Linked DNA regions of Homo sapiens: regions 1, 2 and 4 are each linked to region 3. Evidence: fine-mapped expression QTL. A gene starts in region 3. Each other region holds a variant in brackets. All regions are shown on one strand. Distances are from middle to middle.

Region 1 (2,686 bases), 24 kb before region 3:
AAGAGGCAGAAAGGAGCAGATGGGAATCTGTGGACGAGAGCAGCTACAGCTCTGTCCTTGGGATCCAGGAGGCCCAAGTGACCAGAGCCCTTATAATAGATTCCCCTTTCCTTCTAGTTGGACAGGAATTTCTGTCACCCAACAATTCCCTCAAAGCTCATGTGCGTACTCTGCTGCCAGGTTTACACAGCCACAGCCATGCCTGCACATCTTCCTTGCAGTGGCGGGAAGTGGCCTGATGAGTCAGCACTCCTGGAGGGCATTTTGCTGGGCCAGTTCACTCTGCAGTGGCATCACCTCCTTGTGAACAAATACAGGAAGGTGGCTGGGCTGGGGGTGAAGCAACCACTGAGAGGGTAGAAACCAGAGATTTTCCTCTTAATGATCAGGATATTTAAGGCAGGATATTTAAGGAGATGCATTTGGCCTGATTTACCCTGATAAACATTTGTGCAGATAAATGTGGTTCTCAAGCAGCCCCAGAATGTCTCAGGGCAGGAACGGGAAGAGAAGGGAAGCAACAAGACTGGCAGGTTTCAGATGATTCTTGGACCACTGGAATAATGGAAATATCCTTCATTCCTATTTACATGGCAGTCGGGATTTGGAGTGAGTGATATTGGCTACGTGGATATCTTTACCCAATTAGGTAAAGTGTTTAAAGTAGTGTTACATCGGCCGGGCGCGGTGGCTCACGCCTGTAATCCCAGCACTTTGGGAGGCCGAGGCGGGTGGATCACGAGGTCAGGAGATCGAGACCATCCTGGCTAACACGGTGAAACCCGGTCTCTACTAAAAATACAAAAAACTAGCCGGGCGTGGTGGCGGGCGCCTGTAGTCCCAGCTACTCGGGAGGCTGAGGCGGGAGAATGGCGTGAACCCGGGAGGCGGAGCTTGCAGTGAGCCGAGATCCCGCCACTGCACTCCAGCCTGGGCGACAGAGCGAGACTCCGTCTCAAAAAAAAAAAAAAAAAAAAAAAAAAAGTAGTGTTACATCTACGTACAGTGTTTAAAGTAGTGTTGTAACTAGATGAAGTGTTGTAACTAGGTGAAGTGTTGTAACTAGGTGAAGTGGTGTAACTAGGTGAAATGTTGTAACTAGGTGTTGTAACCAGGTTACAATATTTGCTCAGTAAGTGTGCAACTGTGCTCAAAACATTGATGCCACTTCCAGAAGCAGCACAAAACTCAATATTCAGAAAGAGTTTGTACATAAGATGAATCTGATTCAATATATTAATTAGAGAAAAACAAACCTGAAATATCACTAGGTCAGCCTCCCGAACCTTTTTCTGCTCATCAGTGATGTCGCTAGCCAGAGACCTTTGCTTGTAGGCTTCGTGGGTTTCCACTCCATAATTGAAAACCTCAGGATTAGAAAGAGTACCTGTCGGGGAAGAGGCCAAACATTCTCACT[C/T]CTAGGTGGGCATCCACAGCCCATCCCAACCATCCCAGTAGCACTGTGTATACCGGACTCCTCAGACAAGTCAAAGACATTTGCTGCAACCTGACCAGAAGCTGCACCCTGGGTCCGAGCTAGGGAAAGAGAAGCAGTCTGGGAGGGCTGCTGATTGAGCACTTGCTACCTAGCAGGTGCTGTGCTCTACACACATCACCTTTCTTCATAACAACTGGTGAGACTGGTGTATTTCCCAATTTACCAGAGAGCAAACTGACACCCAAGAGAGGCTGGATGTCTTGTTCAATGCCAAACAGGTCTAAAAAAATAAACTCTACGCTTTAATTTCATGCTCACCTCCACATTTTTGAGTATCTGTGTCTTGATTTACATATTTTATATTGCTTATCTTTGGCTCTTAACAGGTCACGTAGTGATTATTGTTTTTGATAGATTTGTCTGTTAGACTTAATACTAGTAATGAGTGGACTGTACACAATTACAGTATTAGAGTGTTCTGTGTACTTACTTTTACCAGTGGGTTTTACATCTTCAAATGTTTTCTTTTTGCACATTAGTGTTTTTCTTTCTTATTGAATTCCCTTTAGCATTTCTTGTAAGGTGGGTCTGGTGGTGGTGCATTTTCTCAGCTTTTCTTTGTTTGGGAAAGACTCTCTCTCTTTCAGAGTTGAAGGCTAGATTTGCTGGGTACAGTATTCTTGGTTGACAGTTTTGTTCTTTCAGCACTTTGAAAATGTCCCACTACCTCCTGGCCTATATGTTTTCTGTTGAGAAGTCTGTTGCCAGATGAACTGGAGCTCTGTTACATGTTATTTGCTTTTAGGATCCTCTTTTTGTTCTTGACCTTTGAGAGTTTAATAATTATATGCCTTGGGGTAGTCCTATTTGAGTCAAATCTGTTTATTCTATGACCTTCCTCTACCAGGATATTTATCTCTTTCTGAAGTTTTGGAAAATTTTTCTGTTATTATTTCTTTGAATAAGCTTGCTATGCCTTGCTCTTGCTCAGCTTCCTCTTAAGCACCAATCATTCTTAGATTTGGTCTTTTGAGGTAATTTTCTATATTTTGTAAGAAATCTCCATACCTTTTTCTTTTTTCTCCTCTGTGTATTTTCAAATCACCTGCCTTTGAGTTCACTGATTTTTTCTTCTGCTTCATCCATTCTGCTGTTGAGAGCCTCTAATGAATTTTTCAGCAAATGTATTTCTAGTTCCAAGATTTCTGTTTGATTTTTTAAAAATTATTTCAATCTCTTTGTAAAATT
Region 2 (2,686 bases), 25 kb after region 3:
TTACAGTATTGTTACTGATCGTGGGTTCTTAGATTCTCATGCAGTGGAAATTGACATGAGACAGAGAAAGTGTCCCAGACAAGGCTTTATAATGGGCTTATGCTGGAGCAGGAGGGCAGCGGCACAGGGGCAGGAGTTCCCGGGCTGGCCCTCGGGACAGGTGTTCCTGGTGTTTTAGGGTGACATGGATAGTCATGAGGTGTGTCAGCAGCATTACACACGCTAGTGGCAGGCACCGGGGAACATCATGTTAGCACAGATGTGTCATGATCAGGGCATGGCAGATGAGCCCCTGAGGAGAGGGTTTTAGTAATACAACAAGGCAAGAGGTCAGGATCGTCGTTCTGATCCTGTATGCATGTGGGCATCAGGCTTAACTCCCTTGGGTAAGATTTGGGGTGGAACATGGCTTATCTTGTTTCCCTCCCTGGTTTGCATGGTCTGGTGGGCAGGTGTGATGGCGTGGGGGATGTATGGAAAATACGGGAGTGGGTACGGGCCAAGCTCTGTCCCTGCTGCCTCCGTATTACTTGCATGGCGTGAGAAGGATTGCCTGTCTTTGTCAGTATTAGCATGAATTGTTTTTGTATTTGCAAGGTTCATGGTTTGAAAAGGCATCTTTAATGTACTCTCCACCATTGCTTTTTGGGAAGGCTGTGCACCATGGTGTTAAGAGAGTGAACTACAGAGCCATGCGGTCCTGGCTTCCAGCCGTCATTCTGCCATTGTTGCCCTGGGTTCTCTGGAGACATGGTACTTAAAGAGCTAAGGCCCGATTTCTTTGCTTATAAAACGTAGGTGTTCTCAGCAGCTATCTCAGAGGGTAAGGGTCTTTCAGTGTGGACCTAGCACATAGTATATATCAAAAAAGTGATATTTTTTTCTGAAGTTGAAACTTTTAAATATAATTATTAGCTATTGTCTTTCTTTTTTGGGGGTAAATTTGTTAATGTCCTTTGCACGTGTTTCTACTGGGGTCTGTTTTTCCTATTTTTTTAGTAGCCCAGTTAC[T/G]CCATTATTTTTCAGTTTTAAGAGTATTTTACTGATTCTGGCTGCTTTTTGGGTAGACCATCAAATTGTTTGCTAACTGTGCTCATTTTGTCTCCTTTCTGACAATCTCCTTTCTCATTATGTTTCATGAGTTGTATTTGCCTTTGCCAGAACTATCTGAACAAAGTTACACAAGGTTGGGACGACAGATATTTTTATCTTGTTCCTGTTTGGGGAGTTAAGGGACTAATGTTCTATCATCAGCTGTGCTGGTGGCTGCTGAAGTAGGTAATTCTTACCTTGTTAAGGAAGCATGGGAAGTACCACTTGCTGTTTGACGTAAGGGTGTTTATCAGGAGTAGGATATTCAGTTATTTAATGACTAACATAGTTTCTGCTAAGAAAATTAAATCTCTAGGACATCCTTGATTTATTGTTTCTTTGTTGCTCAGCAATTTTTATGTAAGGCATAGATAGAATTTTACCTTTCACGGCTGTCAGCAGTGTTTTCAACTAAGAAATGGAATATCATTACTGACCTCACTGTGGGCTTTGAAAATTGAGCTACATTTTTGCTCTTCCTTCTGCATTTGGTATTAACAATTATTGAATGTTAGAGATGGAAGGGAACCCAGATTATCTGGTATATGCTTTTCCTCATACAGAGAGGAAACTGGTATCAGGAGTCCAGTGATTTGCCCAGGGTACCAGAGCCAGGACTAGAGACCCTGTCTTCCTCCTGACTCGTGCCATCTCCTCCGAATATCCTGGTCTGGTTTCTCCAGTTCAGTGTTTCAGATTAAATCCCCTGACACAGTAAAACTCATGTGCACTGACTTCTCCTCCGAATATCCTGCTTTGGTTTCTCCAGTTCAGTATTTCAAATTAAATCCCCTGACACAGTGAAACTCATGTGCACCGACTTCTCCTCTGCCCCAGATGGTGTAACCTGGGCTGGCCAGACAGGCACCTCCCCAGTGGGCGTGTCTTCAGACAAAGGTGGCTTTGCTTTGTTGAAGTTACTGATATAAAGATCAGCGCCTGAAACAGATTCTCCGGGATATTACCGGAGACGGAGTGTTTTATTATTAGCCTTTCTTAGGTGGACATTTCCATTTGAATTAAAAGTCCTTTAGGCTGGGCGTGGTGCATGGCTGTAATCTCAGCACCTTGGGAGGCTGAGGCAGGAAGATCACTTGAGGCCAGGCGTTGGAGAGCAGCCTGGGCAAGGTGGCAAGAACCTTGTCTCTACAAAAAAAAAAGCGTAAGAGTCCTTCAGCATTTGAGGGGAAAACGTGTGCTGACGGTAGAATAGTCTAGGATGGGGTTGGGGGAGCATGTGGGACCTTCCCCTGGCCAGCTGACATGGTACTTAACCTCTGTCTTTTTTTTTTGGTTTATGGAGGAGCCATCTCACCTGGCAGCCTCTCCACGTGGGCTGAGCCCTCTTGGGGACAAAGACAGAAGTCCATGTCCCCAGGCCAGGGAAAACCCCACGTGTCAGGGTGTCTGCTGGCTTTGAGTCCTGAGACACGGACTTCACAGGCTGTGCTTCTTGCTTTGGGGCATCTCCTCTTTTCTTATTCTTAACCTAGAAGTTTCCCTGTTTTACCAATTGTTTCTCTTCAAGTTGATAAGCGGGCAGTTCTTGTGATCTAGAATCCAAAGAACCAAAAATAGGCCCAATTTTGCTTCA
Region 3 (2,686 bases):
ACATTTTTAAACTAAATTGTATGTATTATAGAACAGTCCTCTGCGCTGAGCTTGGACTTAAAGTGGAAAGGCTTACATTTGCAGAATTAAAAAAAGCATCGAAACATTCTGTGGCAGGAAGTCCTGCGAGCCTCCTCGCCCCAGCCCGGTTTCCCGCGGGCCCCAGCCTCATCCCCCAAGGCCCCACCCTGAGAGCCCCCAGGTCCCAGCCGCGTCCTCCTGGACCCCTCCCAGGCGTGGCGAGCCGGGTCGCGGGAGCGCTCCGCCACCAGGGGACAGTGCGGCGCCGACCGTGGGCTGCTGGCTCGGCCGAGGGCACCCAGGCGCCCTCCGCTGCAGCGGGCTGGTTGCAGAGGGGCGGGCTCTCGCCAGGCAGCAGGCGCTCCGGGCGCAGCTGGGAGGAAGGAACGCCCCCGGGAGTGGGCGGCGGCCGAGGGACCCTGCAACCGTCCTCCCTGGAGGAGGCCCCCGCAGCTCCCGCAGCCCCCCTCATCCCGGACGGGCCGGGGATTGGGACTGGCCTGGGGTCTCCTACTCTCCTACTCCGCGCAGGAAGTAGCCCCTTGGCAGGACCGGCGGTGCCTGCTGCTTTCAGGAGCCCCGAGCCGCTTTTGTCTGGGTGCAGCTCAGCTCACATCCCCGATGCAAGTCTTTCCCGGCTCGTCTCCCCTTCTTCCCGGAGTCCATGCCTTGCTGTCGGTGACTCATCCCACACTGTGCCCTGCGACTCACCCTGTCGCTTTCTCTGTTCATCCGGGAGCGCGGCGCCATCTCCCTCCAGCCCCGCCTCCCCTACAGTGCTCCGTGCTGAGGTCGCACGTTCTCTCCTCCCTCCAGCTCCCTGGCTCTTGGCCCTTCCCAGGCCACCAGGCGACAGCAGCCTCCGCCTTCATTTCCCTTGGTCATTTCAGGCGCATGCTTGGAGGATTTCAGGATCTGACTCAGCTTCCCCGCCATGCATCCCTCCACCAGCATCCAGTCACACCTCTGCAGCCTTCAGTGTCCTGGAAAGGACTGACCAATCTGACCCATTAGAACCTACCCAGACCAATTTGAAGGCCACTGCCCCTCAACCGTGGCCACCCACTCCTGCCCCACCTGGAGCCCCAAACTGCTCAGTTCCTTCTCTAAAACTCTGCCCTCTTTTGTTTGTTGTGAATAACTGTCTTCCCTGGTTCTTTCCACACCTCTCTGGCCTCTCCTTGTCTTTTTCTGGTTCTTTTTTTCTCTATTCTCCCTTATGCACTGGCCTTGCTGGAGGTCCCTGCTCTCCCTGCAAAACCTCACCACACCCTTGACTTCAGCTATATCCATTTCACCTCACGTTGACATCTGGTGCCTAGACCTCTCTCCCGAGCCTTCCACACCATGCCAAAAATGAAATTCATTTTCTCCTCTAAATTTGCTCACCTTCTTGTTTTCCCAATCTTATTTATTGTCACAGCCATTCCCCTGCTGGTCCAAGTCAGTAGTCTGAGAGTCATGCTAGACTCCTCCTTCCTTATCTACCCATCCACCAATCCCCAAGCCCTGTCTATCCTCCTTTTTTTTTTTTTTTTTTTCCAGTCAGAGTCTTGCTGTGTTGCCCAGGCTAGAGTGCAATGGCACGATCTCGGCTCACTGCAATCTTTGCCTCCCGGGTTCAAGTGATTCTCCTGCCTCAGCCTCCTGAGTAGCTGGGATTACAGGCGCATGTCACCACGCCCAGCTAATTTTTGTATTTTTAGCAGAGATGAGGTTTTGCCATGTTGGCCAGGCTGGTCTTGAACTGCTGACCTCGTGATCCGCCTGCCTCTGCCTCCCAAAGTGCTGGGATTACTGGCATGAGCCACTGTGCCTGGTCATCTATCCTCCTTTTTAAATAGCTCTGCCATGTGTGCCTGTCTCCCCTGACAGCTCACCCTCATCCTATTTGTCCACATTGCTGCAGAGTAGTCTCTTCCATACACCAGGAGTTCCCAACCCCCGGGCCACAGACCTGACTGGTCTGTAGCCTGTTAGGAACCAGGACACACAGCAAGAGGTGAGCCACCAGTGGGTGAGCTAGTGAAGCTTTATCTGTATGTGCAGCTGCTCCCCATTGCTTGCATTACCACCAGAGCTCTGCCTCCTATCAGATCAGGCAGCATTAGATTCTTATAGGAGCACAAACCCTACTGTGAACTGCACACATAAGGGATCTAGGATGTGCGCTCCTTATGAGAATCTAATGCCTGATAATCTGCCGTTGTCTTCATCACCCCCACATGGGGCCAGATAGTTGCAGGAAAACAAGCTCAGGGCTCCCACTGAAAATAAAGTGCACAAGAAGTGTCATGTGCTTGAATCATCCCGAAACCATCCTCTGCTGTCCAAGGAAAAATAGTTTTCCACAAAACCCCTCCCTGGTGCCAAAAAGGTTGGGATGGTTGCCATACATAACTCTGATGATGAGACCACGAAGCTCAGAATCCTCCAGAGGCTCTCCACTGCCTGTAAGATGAAATAAAATTTATGGGTGTGACTTATCCATAAGGGCCCAGTCTAAACTGCCTCATATTTAATTATATAGTAAGCTATTTGTTTCCTCAAACGTATATATTTTGGCCCATTTCCCAGTCTCCTAGGTTGGAATATGCTCTGTGTGTCACCTGGCCAGCTCATGCTCTTTCTCATTCTCAGCTCAAGTGTTAGGGACTCTATGACA
Region 4 (2,686 bases), 36 kb after region 3:
TTGGGGGACAGTGGAACTCTCTATCCGTGCACTTGACTGCTGAAGGAGAAGGCCCCAGCCGATTCCTGATGTGTCGGGGATCCGCAGCCGCCCCTATCTAATGCGGTCTTGAATTCTTCCGCTCAGGTAAAATTGCGGAGTTGCTCTCTCCGGGCTCAGTGGATCCATTGACAAGGCTGGTTCTGGTGAATGCTGTCTATTTCAGAGGAAACTGGGATGAACAGTTTGACAAGGAGAACACCGAGGAGAGACTGTTTAAAGTCAGCAAGGCGAGTAAGGGGCCGTGACAGGAGCAGCGCCTGTGTTCACACGAGCGTCTCCGGCTCGGGGCCTCCCGCGTCTGCAGCCGTGGGGCCTTTCTGTCCCTGCCCCTCCTGCTTGACATCCATTGGGTGGCCTCGTGTCCCTGGGCGCCTGGCATCCGCCCTGCCACCTACAGGGCAAGTCTGAAGCTGCAGCCCTCAGGCTCGATCAAGGTCTTAAAGCTCAGACTCCAGATATGGCGTGCCATCTTCTAGCGGACATTTCCTCCTTTTCTCTAGCTTCATTCCCATCAGGACCTACCCACTCCTTTCTTTCTGGCGGCGTCCCGGGAAGCCCCGCTACCGCGCCTCCTGCTGGCCTCCGTGCCACACTGCAGGAGCGGAACAACTCAGCCTGCTGAATTGAGGCTGAGCAGGGAGGACTCTCTGACAAGTGCCAGACACGTAGCTGGTGCTTAGTAAATGCTGAACCGATGAGTGATATTCAGTCCTCTCTTGATAGTAAGGATAAGTACAGATTTTTGTTTTAAAACAACCAAACCAAACATGTAGATAGACACTGAGATTAACCACCTCCAGCGTGGAAGATGTCATTTGCTGATGGCCCTTTATCTTCCTCTCACTGAATCTTCTTTATTGTCTCTTGTTTTGTTTTTCTTTAACTATAGAAATTTTTGAACATAGACAAAGTAAACAGAATAGATTAATTACAGTGTATTCTTGATCATTGACCATAGTTAGATCTTCCAGGCTAACTTGAACTTGAGCCTTCAGTTTTTCAAGAAATTTATTTTCATTGTCTGTTCTCCTCGCAATTCAGAAAGAATTATTTTCTTTGAAGCTTTATTCTGAAATGAACTGTGCTATTTTCCCCTGGCAAAATAATTTCTCTCTTTAAAATTTAATGATTAACAAGATGTACAAGGGCTTTGACTACAGATAACAGA[A/C]ACCCCGGTTCACCATGGTTTATCTCCTAGGAGCTCATCTCCCCTGCTAGGAGGTCTGGAGGCAGGTGAGACCTGGGCTGGTCTGGCACTGGGGCGATGATCCCAGGGAGGCGGCTCCACCATTCTCAGCACGTCGCCTTCTTCCTCATGGTCACAAGATGGCTGAGCTGGCTTCAGCAGTCCCGGTGGCAGGGAGGGGGAGGAACAAGGGAGGGGAGGGGAGCCTAAACCTTCCCCTTAGTGGTTCTGCGTTTCAGAAAGGGAAAGCTGCTTTCTATATGGTGTAGGCCAGAACTATAGGTCTTGTGGGTTTGGGGAGATGTGGAATCCCGTCATGCTTTCTGAGTTCTGCAGTGAAGAAGGGTGAAGGAAGGGGCTGCAGTATTGAGCGTACCAGCCTGAGGCCAGAGGTGTACCTCCAAGGGCACAGATTTTGAGTTGATACAGATTCTTATTTTAATTTCATTACCTTCTATATAAACTGGAACTTGTCTATATAATTGTGTATTTAGTGAATCATTCAGTCACTAAGGTTAGATCTTTTTATATTGCAAGATTGGAGGCTTTGGACCCTGAAGGGGTGCAGGGAGGAATTACTGAAGGCAGGGGTCAGCAAACTTCAGCCTACAGCAAAGCCAGCCCACCACCTAATTTTTTTTAAAGGTTTACTGAAACACAGCCATGCTTATTTTTTTTTTTTATTTTTTATTTTTTCCAAGACAGAGTTTCTCTCTTGTTGCCCAGGCTGGAGTGCAGTGGTGCCATCTCGGAACACTGCAGCCTCCGCCTCCCGGGTTCAGGTGATTCTCCTGCCGTGGCCTCTTGAGTAGCTGGGATTACAGGTGTGTGCCACTATGCCCGGCTAATTTTTGCATTTTTAGTAGAGACGGGGTTTCACCATGTTGGTCAGGTTGGTCTCGAACTCCTGACCTCAGGTGATCCACCTGCCCGGGCCTCCCACAGTGCTGGGATTACAGGCGTGAGCCACCACGCCTGGCCCATGCTTATTTACTTACTTATTTCATCCTGTAACAACAGCTGAGTCGTTGTGACGGAGATGGTACATGTAGCCACAAACCGGAAAATAGTTCCTGTCTGGTCAGTTATGGAAGAAACATGCCTACTGCTGGCCAAGGAAATGAGTGGGGCAGCCGAGGCCCAGGAGACTGCTCTAGCCAAAGGCTAAGGGCCAGCCCAGGCGAGCCTCTACCACGTGAAAGCAGAAAGCTGCCGCCGCAGTGTATTTTATTTATTCCATTTAACACAGAAGAATGTGCTACACCAGAGACTGGGGACCATACGGCGTCTTTGACTGTGCCTATTGCAGGGTATTTACTCAACTCACAGGAGCAGCTCCGAGTCAGGAACTGAGGGGGATTGTTGGATGGGGTGTGGTTCCTGGCCTCCAGTCTTTCTCATTGGCTGGCTGGGGTTGGTGACCAGTGCAGTTTTTTCTGGTGAGATGTGTAAATGTTG

Evidence for each region. PIP is the estimated chance that this variant, and not a neighbour inherited with it, causes the effect.
Region 1: its variant is fine-mapped to the expression of LINC01011 in whole blood (INTERVAL, PIP above 0.99).
Region 2: its variant is fine-mapped to the expression of LINC01011 in whole blood (INTERVAL, PIP above 0.99).
Region 4: its variant is fine-mapped to the expression of LINC01011 in whole blood (GTEx, PIP above 0.99).

What each region holds. Positions count from the first base shown.
Region 1 is chr6:3,011,245-3,013,930 of GRCh38, reverse strand. NQO2 (N-ribosyldihydronicotinamide:quinone dehydrogenase 2) reads right to left here. Exons shown (of 7, transcript NM_000904.6): 4 at 1,257-1,387. Among named protein-coding and RNA genes, the nearest start is that of NQO2, 13 kb to the right of the region's middle. RefSeq lists an enhancer at 1-116. The variant C/T (reference allele first, on the strand shown) is at 1,418.
Region 2 is chr6:2,961,462-2,964,147 of GRCh38, reverse strand. The region is part of intron 1 of SERPINB6 (serpin family B member 6); the gene reads left to right. Among named protein-coding and RNA genes, the nearest start is that of SERPINB6, 8.8 kb to the left of the region's middle. The variant T/G (reference allele first, on the strand shown) is at 1,012.
Region 3 is chr6:2,986,756-2,989,441 of GRCh38, reverse strand. It overlaps LINC01011 (long intergenic non-protein coding RNA 1011), which reads right to left and starts at 1,475. Exons shown (of 3, transcript NR_026856.1): 1 at 1,411-1,475. It overlaps NQO2-AS1 (NQO2 antisense RNA 1), which reads left to right. Exons shown (of 2, transcript NR_186367.1): 2 at 1-106. RefSeq lists a silencer at 111-530 and enhancers at 1-723, 724-1,533.
Region 4 is chr6:2,950,627-2,953,312 of GRCh38, reverse strand. SERPINB6 (serpin family B member 6) reads left to right here. Exons shown (of 7, transcript NM_004568.6): 5 at 127-269. Among named protein-coding and RNA genes, the nearest start is that of SERPINB6, 20 kb to the left of the region's middle. The variant A/C (reference allele first, on the strand shown) is at 1,211.